Linked DNA regions of Homo sapiens. The protein of the gene in region 1 interacts with the protein of each later gene in a biochemical or structural test. Each region holds a gene or a part of one and is shown on either strand. Other genes may lie near its edges.

What was found.
Region 2: the proteins of ACTR2 (region 1) and ERCC6 form a complex in vitro, tested with the Homo sapiens proteins (one large-scale study listed by BioGRID).

Annotation. Positions count from the first base shown.
Region 1 is NC_000002.12:65,248,270-65,252,088, reverse strand, and holds part of ACTR2 (actin-related protein 2), read right to left. Parts: intron 1,063-3,819; coding exon 990-1,062; intron 1-989. UniProt on the Homo sapiens protein: ATP-binding component of the Arp2/3 complex, a multiprotein complex that mediates actin polymerization upon stimulation by nucleation-promoting factor (NPF).
Region 2 is NC_000010.11:49,528,943-49,532,761, forward strand, and holds part of ERCC6 (DNA excision repair protein ERCC-6), read right to left. Parts: coding exon 3,601-3,819; intron 1,899-3,600; coding exon 1,778-1,898; intron 1-1,777. UniProt on the Homo sapiens protein: Involved in repair of DNA damage following UV irradiation, acting either in the absence of ERCC6 or synergistically with ERCC6. Involved in the regulation of gene expression.

The DNA.
Region 1 (3,819 bases):
TGGCCTTTCTCCAAACACACTTGACCCATTTCCAGTGCCACACTCTTTTCCCACTGGATTATCCCCTGAAGTGCCTAAAAGACTCCTTGGCACATATCTGACAGGCCCAGACATTCTCAGTAAGTTCCTGTTGAATTTATAAGACCATAAAAAAAAAAAAGAGCTCTCCCAACGTGGCCAATATTTTATTTCCAATAAAGAGGGAGGCAGTTGCTAATGGCAATATCAAGAGAATATATAAGTAGTCCCCTCCATTAAACCCACCTCAAAAGTTAGAAATGCACTCCCAAATGTTTACCTTCTCCTTTTTAATCTACTATATATTTGACAGGCATGATTTTATGCTACCTTTTTGAATCTCTGCGTATTTTTTTTAACTCAAGCCAATTCTGGGGACAAATTCCATGCATAAAAAATTAAAATAGCTATGCCAGGCACGGTGACTCATGCCTGTAATCCCAGCACTTCAGGAGGCTGAGGCGGGCGGACTACCTGAGGTCAGGAGTTTGAGACCAGCCTGACCAATATGGAGAAACCCCATCTCTACTAAAAATACAAAATTAGCCAGGTGTGGTGGCACATGCCTGTAATCCCAAATACTTGGGAGGCTGAGGCAGGAAAATCACTTGAACCCAGGAGGTGGAGGTTGTGGTAAGCCAAGATTGCACTATTGCACTCCGGCCTGGGCAACAAAAGCGAAAATCTGTCTCAAAAAAAATTTAAATAGCTTAAAAGAGAGAATATCCTATTTTTTAAAAAATAAGTCTTTAAGCCTTTTTTTTTTACCTTAAATACATATTTAGCAAATAAAAATGTATATAAAATCTTATTTCACAAATTTTAAAAACTGAAAATATTTCAAAGTGTGGTATATAAATAATGTAGTTTTCTGGGGCTTATAACTTATTGAGAAACCAAATTCTCTGACATAAAACATACATAATAAATGTTTGATGAAGTGTTTTTTCTAACAGTTAAGCTTAACCTACCTTGAGCGTACAAAGTCAGAACTGCCTGGATGGCTACATATACACCGGAAAACTGGTAAGTTTCAAACATTACCTGTAAATGCAGACAGAAAGAAAAAAACTGGTATTTAGAAAATTACATAATAAATAAATGTTTTCCTCATGGTCACAGAGTGAATTAATTGCCCAAAATAGAATCAAATGGACCTGAAATAGTCTTCCATTTTCATCAGCTCCTCTTATTTCTTATTGAAGTCCTGCTGCCACAGAGCTCCAAATCTGAAGACAGATTTCTAAGTCCCCAAGCATTTCATAAGCGTGACAAAGCAAAGATTTCTTAGTGTATTAGTTAATGACTAATTAGTGTGAAAGAAAGCTCTCTGTATTGAACAAGACTTTCTTAATTGATATCCCTTAAGGGAAATTCTTTTTTTTTTTTTTTTTTTTTGAGATGAAGTCTCACTCTGTTGCCCAAGCTGGAGTGCAGTGGCGCAATCTTGGCTCACTGCAACCTCCACCTCCAGGGTTCAACTGATTCTCCTGCCTCAGCCTCCTGAGTAGCTGGGACTACAGGCATGCACCACCATGCCTGGCTAATTTTTGTATTTTTAGTACAGACAGGGTTTCACTATGTTGGCCAGGCTAGTCTCGAACTCCTGACCTCATGATCCACCCACCTCGGCCTCCCAAAGTGCTGGGATTACAGGTGTCAGCCACCACATCCAGCCAGGGAAATATCTTTTTTTTTTCTTTTTTTGAGACGGAGTCTTGCTCTGTCGCCCAGGCTGGAGTGCAGTGGTGCCATCTCAGCTCACTGCAACCTCCACCTCCCTGGTTCACGCCATTCTCCTGCCTCAGCCTCCCGAGTAGCTGGGACTACAGGCGTACACCACCACACCCGGCTAATTTTTAGTATTTTTAGTAGAGACAGGGTTTCACCGTGTTAGCCAGGATGGTCTCCATCTCCTGACCTCATGATCCGCCTGCCTCGGCCTCCCAAAGTGCTGGGATTACAGGCGTGAGCCACCGCACCCGGCCGGGAAATATCTTTTAATTCGAAGACAAAATATAGAAATTGCTTTACAGAGCCTCGTACCCCCTCCCTCAATCTGGGCCAAGAGTGTAGCTCTGTCTACCCTGAGCAGCTTAAAAATTAAAAGAAAGAAAGAAAGAAAAAATAAAAAACCCAGTAAAATGCCACGGCAAAGACAAAAATCAATGGTTAATTCCTGATTGCTGGAAGATACAGAAATGGCTTAGCTGCTGAGCCCAGTCCCTACTTGAATCAAGACTGTAATTACAACCTCCAAATGAACTACCCTGGAAGGAGGAGTTCTTTCCTTTTTGCCCTCACTGGTCACACACATGTTCATTCTCTGTAGCCCAGGTCAGCTGGGAACATCCTGCATGATTTTTTTTTTGGTGATCTTGACTGAGCACCCCTTGACTGGTAGGGTTGCCTATCACTCTGAATATCTAAATATTTAGAAATTTTACAACTGACCACAATGAAAATTACACAGAATTTAAATTCTACAACTCTGAAACACATACTCATCAATTAAGCAATTAGATAGTCTGAATAGTATTTTATTCCATCATCCTTTATTCCACCTCCACAGGGATGAAAATGGAAGAATGATCATATATATGCACATACCAATGTGAAAGCATGTTAATGAGATTAAGGTAGGACACTATCAGTCATAGACATATTTGTAGTCATAAACAAATAAGAATATTAAAATATAAGCCATAAGAAATCATATGGATTCTTTAAAACCATGATCTTAGATTTTCAAAACACTTAATACAAAAACTGAGTTTTAATACAGGCTTTAAAAATACTAACAACATTTTCTTCTAAACCCTTTCAAAAATTTCCATCAACATTTAAACATATTCGTAAACAAAATATGTACATTAAACAGTAACTGGAAAGCTACAGAAGTTATTAAATTTCTACTTCATATATACAAAAATAAAAGAACCTTGAAAAATTACTTATTTAAACTATGAGGATCATAGCTCTCTTGCTCTCTCTTTCCTCTGTAACTGCTTATTTCATTATTTCATTAACTTTTTTTTTCTTTTTCTTTTTTCTTTTTGAGACAGAGTCTCGCTCTGTCGCTCAGGTTGGAGTGCAGTGGGGTGATCTCAGCTCACTGCAACCTCCACCTCCTGGGTTCAAGCAATTCTCCTGCCTCAGCCTCCTGCGTAGCTGGGATTACAGGCGTGCACCACTATGCCCAGCTAATTTTGTGTTTTTAGTAGAGACGGAGTTTTGCCATGTTGGCCAGGCTGGTCTCAAATTCCTAGTCTCAAGTGATCCACCCGCCTTGGCCTCCCAAAGTGCTGGGAGCCACCTAGCCCGGCCTCAATAACGTTTTCAATCTCCTTCTGCTGGCTCCTCCTATCTCTCTGGTCCTTGGCCTTTTCACCACTGTCTACCCTCTTCTTTGTTGAACCGTATCATTTATAGCCCTACCTTCAAAACAGACCTATAATCTGGTAATTTCTCACTATCTCTACTACTACTACTTCAATCCTAACCATCATTATCTTTTGCTTAAATGACTGAAAAAGTCTCCAACTCTTCTATCTTTGCCTCCTTGTGGGATACTCACAACACAAGAGAAATCTAAATCTGAGCATCTCCTTTTCCTGTAACAGCCCCATATTTCACCCACAGTAAAAGCCCAATTCCCTTTTTTTCTTTTTGAGACTGAGTCTCACCCTGTCGCCCAGGCTGGAATGCAGTGGTGTAATCTCGGCTCACTGCAGCATCTGCCTCCTGGGTTCAAGCGATTCTCCTGCCCCAGCCTCCCAAGTAGCTGGGATTACAGGCACG
Region 2 (3,819 bases), on another chromosome or scaffold:
AAATAAAAACACAAATGTTCAATTGAAAAAGTTAGTCTCCTTTGATAACCTACTATATTTATGACTGTCCTTTTAGTATTCTACCTAATCAAAAAGCTTTAAGAAAAAAATATATCTTGCCATGCCTCTCCACCCTGGCCACGCCAGACTCCTCTTTGTCTTGTTCCCTTCCACATCACCAGAACTCAGATATGTGCCCTTGGGCTTCACTGGGGAGGCCCAATGAACTGGGCTTGTGGTACCTGGTTCATCTTTCCAAGGTCAAGAATGTTTCAACTTCAAATACGAGTGTGGGACAAGGGGAAATCCTGAACATAAATGCCACACTGCAATGACTTGCAATTTGTTTTTTCTCAGTTTTTCTCTCAGCAACATTCTGTCTAAAGCACTTTCCCTCTGAATAGTCTACCTCTAACCATCAAAGAGCTGCTAAAGACAAGAATGCATAATTAAGTTAGACTAGGACCTGAAGTGGTCTCAAGTTTGATGCTCTACACCCTTGAAATTCCAGCCCACTAGAAGCCCAAGAAGGTCTCTGCACATCAATTTCACATGCTCCCACAAGAGACCAGATGTCCTCTCTCTGATTTGGGAGGACCCACCTGCCTTGGGCAACTGCTAGCTTTGACCTTTGGGCTGCTATTCTGGAAGCAAGTGAGAGAAGATGGGGTAGTGCAGGTAACAGACTGGTGAGTGGAAAGTATAATAAAAGGAGGGCCACGTGAACTGAACCAACGCACAGCCCTGCCCCTGGAGAGCTTAAAGAAAAGATGCAAGGACTCTACTCACTGCAGTGAATCAACTGTAAGCACAAGTTGGGATGGCAGAACTGAAATGGTTACAGCTAGTCATTCCTATCTATTGCAATGTATTTTCACAAAGGGGTACATAAATCATAAAAAATGTTTCAGACCTCACAAAGCTGTACATAAATCCTTAAAAAAAGTTTCAAACTTCATAAAAATAATATCCTAAGTAACAAATATTCCCTACCCTTAAGTTTTCCAAAGCTAAGTACAACCCCAGTGTGGCTGGGTGCTGACTGTAACACCCAAGGTGGGAGGAAGGGCCAAGCTCTCGCAACTGTCAGCAAAGGTGTGTGAGGGTCAATGGCTGCACCACCAAGAAACAGAGTGGAGACAATTAGAGGAAGCAAGGGCTAAGCAGAAAAGAGTTCACAGGAGACCAGGAGACTGAGGCCAGTGTGACCCTAAGCCAGGCCAAAGAAATGGTGATGCAGGAAAACTAAGGAAGTGCGCCCAAGTGAGGCAAGCAACACCAAAAAGGAACTTTTCTCAAATACACAGATGGTCTCCAACTTATCATGGTCTGACTTGCAATTTTTCAACTTTGTGATGGGTTTATCAGGGCATAACCCCATTATAAACTGAGGAGCCTCTGGACTTAACTATGGTTTGACTTACAATATTTTGACTTTAAGATAGGTTTTTCAGTGTATTTAATGCATTTTTGACTAACAATATTTTCAATTTACGATGGGTTTGTCGGGATGTAACCCTGTTGTAAATCAAGGAGCAACTGTATACGTATGGATGTGTGTGTCTATGTATGTGTGTTTTTTTAAATGCAATAGAATGGGATGTTAAAGGAAAACAGCAGAAAGATTAAACATACAAAAGAAACCCAAAATTTCTCTATTGTAATTATAAGTATTTGCTTCACATCTTATAAGCACTTTTTAAAATACTTCCTAAATTAAGTGCCCCTAAATGATGACTTTTTCAAAAATGCAATACTGAATGTTATTCTGAATCACCTTATTATACTTCTGTCGTTTTACAGAATCTAGTTTCCTGTTGATGTCTCTGCTGGTGGCAGCTTGAGGGCTAAGCTGTTCAATAATTTTATTGATTTGCCTTAGGGATGTCGTACATGACCTGAAAAATAAGATAAATTGTCTATTTTGCACTCTGATAACATTTTTATAGCATAATATAAAGAGAAAAATGCTAAAAACATGTCCCTTTTACTTCTTATTAACTAAAAGATAAAGGAAACTAAACCAGAATACATACCCTTATTGGCCACAAATAAAACTTGTAGGATCATTAGAGGTTTAAGATGACTGCTAGTGTTTTCTTTTATCTAGCTGATTTAGATCAGCTCATTCCCATTTGTAAGCTGCTTCAGTCATTCTACAAGCATTATTTAAGTGCCTACTTTATTCAACACACTATGCTAGAACAATGTGCAATAAGTTGTCCTTTTACATGAAAAAATGCATACATGGGTTTTTTAAGCCCGTTACGGAAGCCTTCCAAAGTCTGGAAGCATCCTAAATATGCTTAAACATTTTTTTATATAAATCACACATCTGCGACAATATTTTTCTTCTACATAAATGGAAGATTCACTTACTACAGCACTAAACTTTGTGGTGCAAAGAAAACAAATCAATTTAAAATAAATTACTCCTAAAATAGACACCATAGAATTGTAGCTTCCAATTTTCAAAACACAAATTCAATCTTCTTGATGATTGTGTAATTTGCTGTTTGTATCCTCTGTGGATTACAGGATAAACAATGCGTATTACTGGCTGAGACACCACATGCCACCAGCCATCTAGCATCACTCTGCATGGAGACCCCACAACTCTCCTCTGTCACCTCTGGAGAAAGAGGACACATTTCCAAGATCAAATGTAAAAGTATCATTACAAAGAGTTGAGGTCCTCAACACTCAGACTATAACCATGAACGAGCACCTGCTCCTGAGGAGGCCAAAAGAACACACCAGGGAATGGTTAGCAGAAAACATGTCTTTGAAGTACCAACAACCACATTCATGACAGCGCCACACTCCACCCTCCCCAGCTATCCTCTGTGACACTGCTCCATCCTCCATCCCGTTCAGCCCTCGCCTTCTTTCTTGCTTACCTGACACTGCCCAGAACACTGCCCAACGGGGGCCAAGCAGCAATGATAAGTGAGCTCAACCCCTCCCACTTCCCCTCTCCTGTCCTCACCTCCTACCCTTGCTCAGGTCTACAGCCTCCCCTTCTTCCCCATTAACGTGCTATGCTCAAAACAGCTCAAGTCTTCTCCCTCTCTAAGACACAAATAAAATCTCCATTTCCAGAGTCAGAACAAGGATGGAAGAAAAGAAAACCGGGGAGTCTTTATTATTTCTAAAAATGCAAATCTGAAAAATTGCCCAAGGACTGAACACTAAGTTTGGGGACAGTAAGCTAGAAAGAAGCTACCGCACAGAGAAAAATGTGAAGGGGGCGCAATGTATTCCTGGCATCTCGAATAGGAAACACCTGAATTTAGGTGCACCTCTCCTGAGATCACTTTGTGCACATGCTGGTGAACAGCCCTTCTCTTCTGGACATTATGCATGCAACTGGCTTTCACGAGCTGGACAGAGACTCTAACTACCATGTACAATGCCACTCCTAAGGGGAAGGGCTGGGACTCAAAGATGAGGTTGAGGACTGCCCTTATTGACTCTGTCCTCCAAATAAAAGGTTCTACACATCTCCTAAACTTCTGGAATACTAGAGCTTTCCATTACCTGAATATCCCTGTCATGTTTTACCACCACTTTGAAAGGAAGAAGATGGGCTGCACTCACGTGAGGTCATCCAGGACCGACCGATACTCCTTCTCCACGTCAACGAGCTGGGAGGCACGGCTGGCCTCATGGATGGCATTGTCCACCTGCTGAAGCACTCCCTGTTCCAGCACGTCCTGGTCATAGACGTCCACACCCAAACCCTGCAGCTCAAGGGCCTGGGCGCTAGGCTCTACTGCCTGGATCTGATGTCGGTCGATGTGCAGCAGGGCTGGCCCT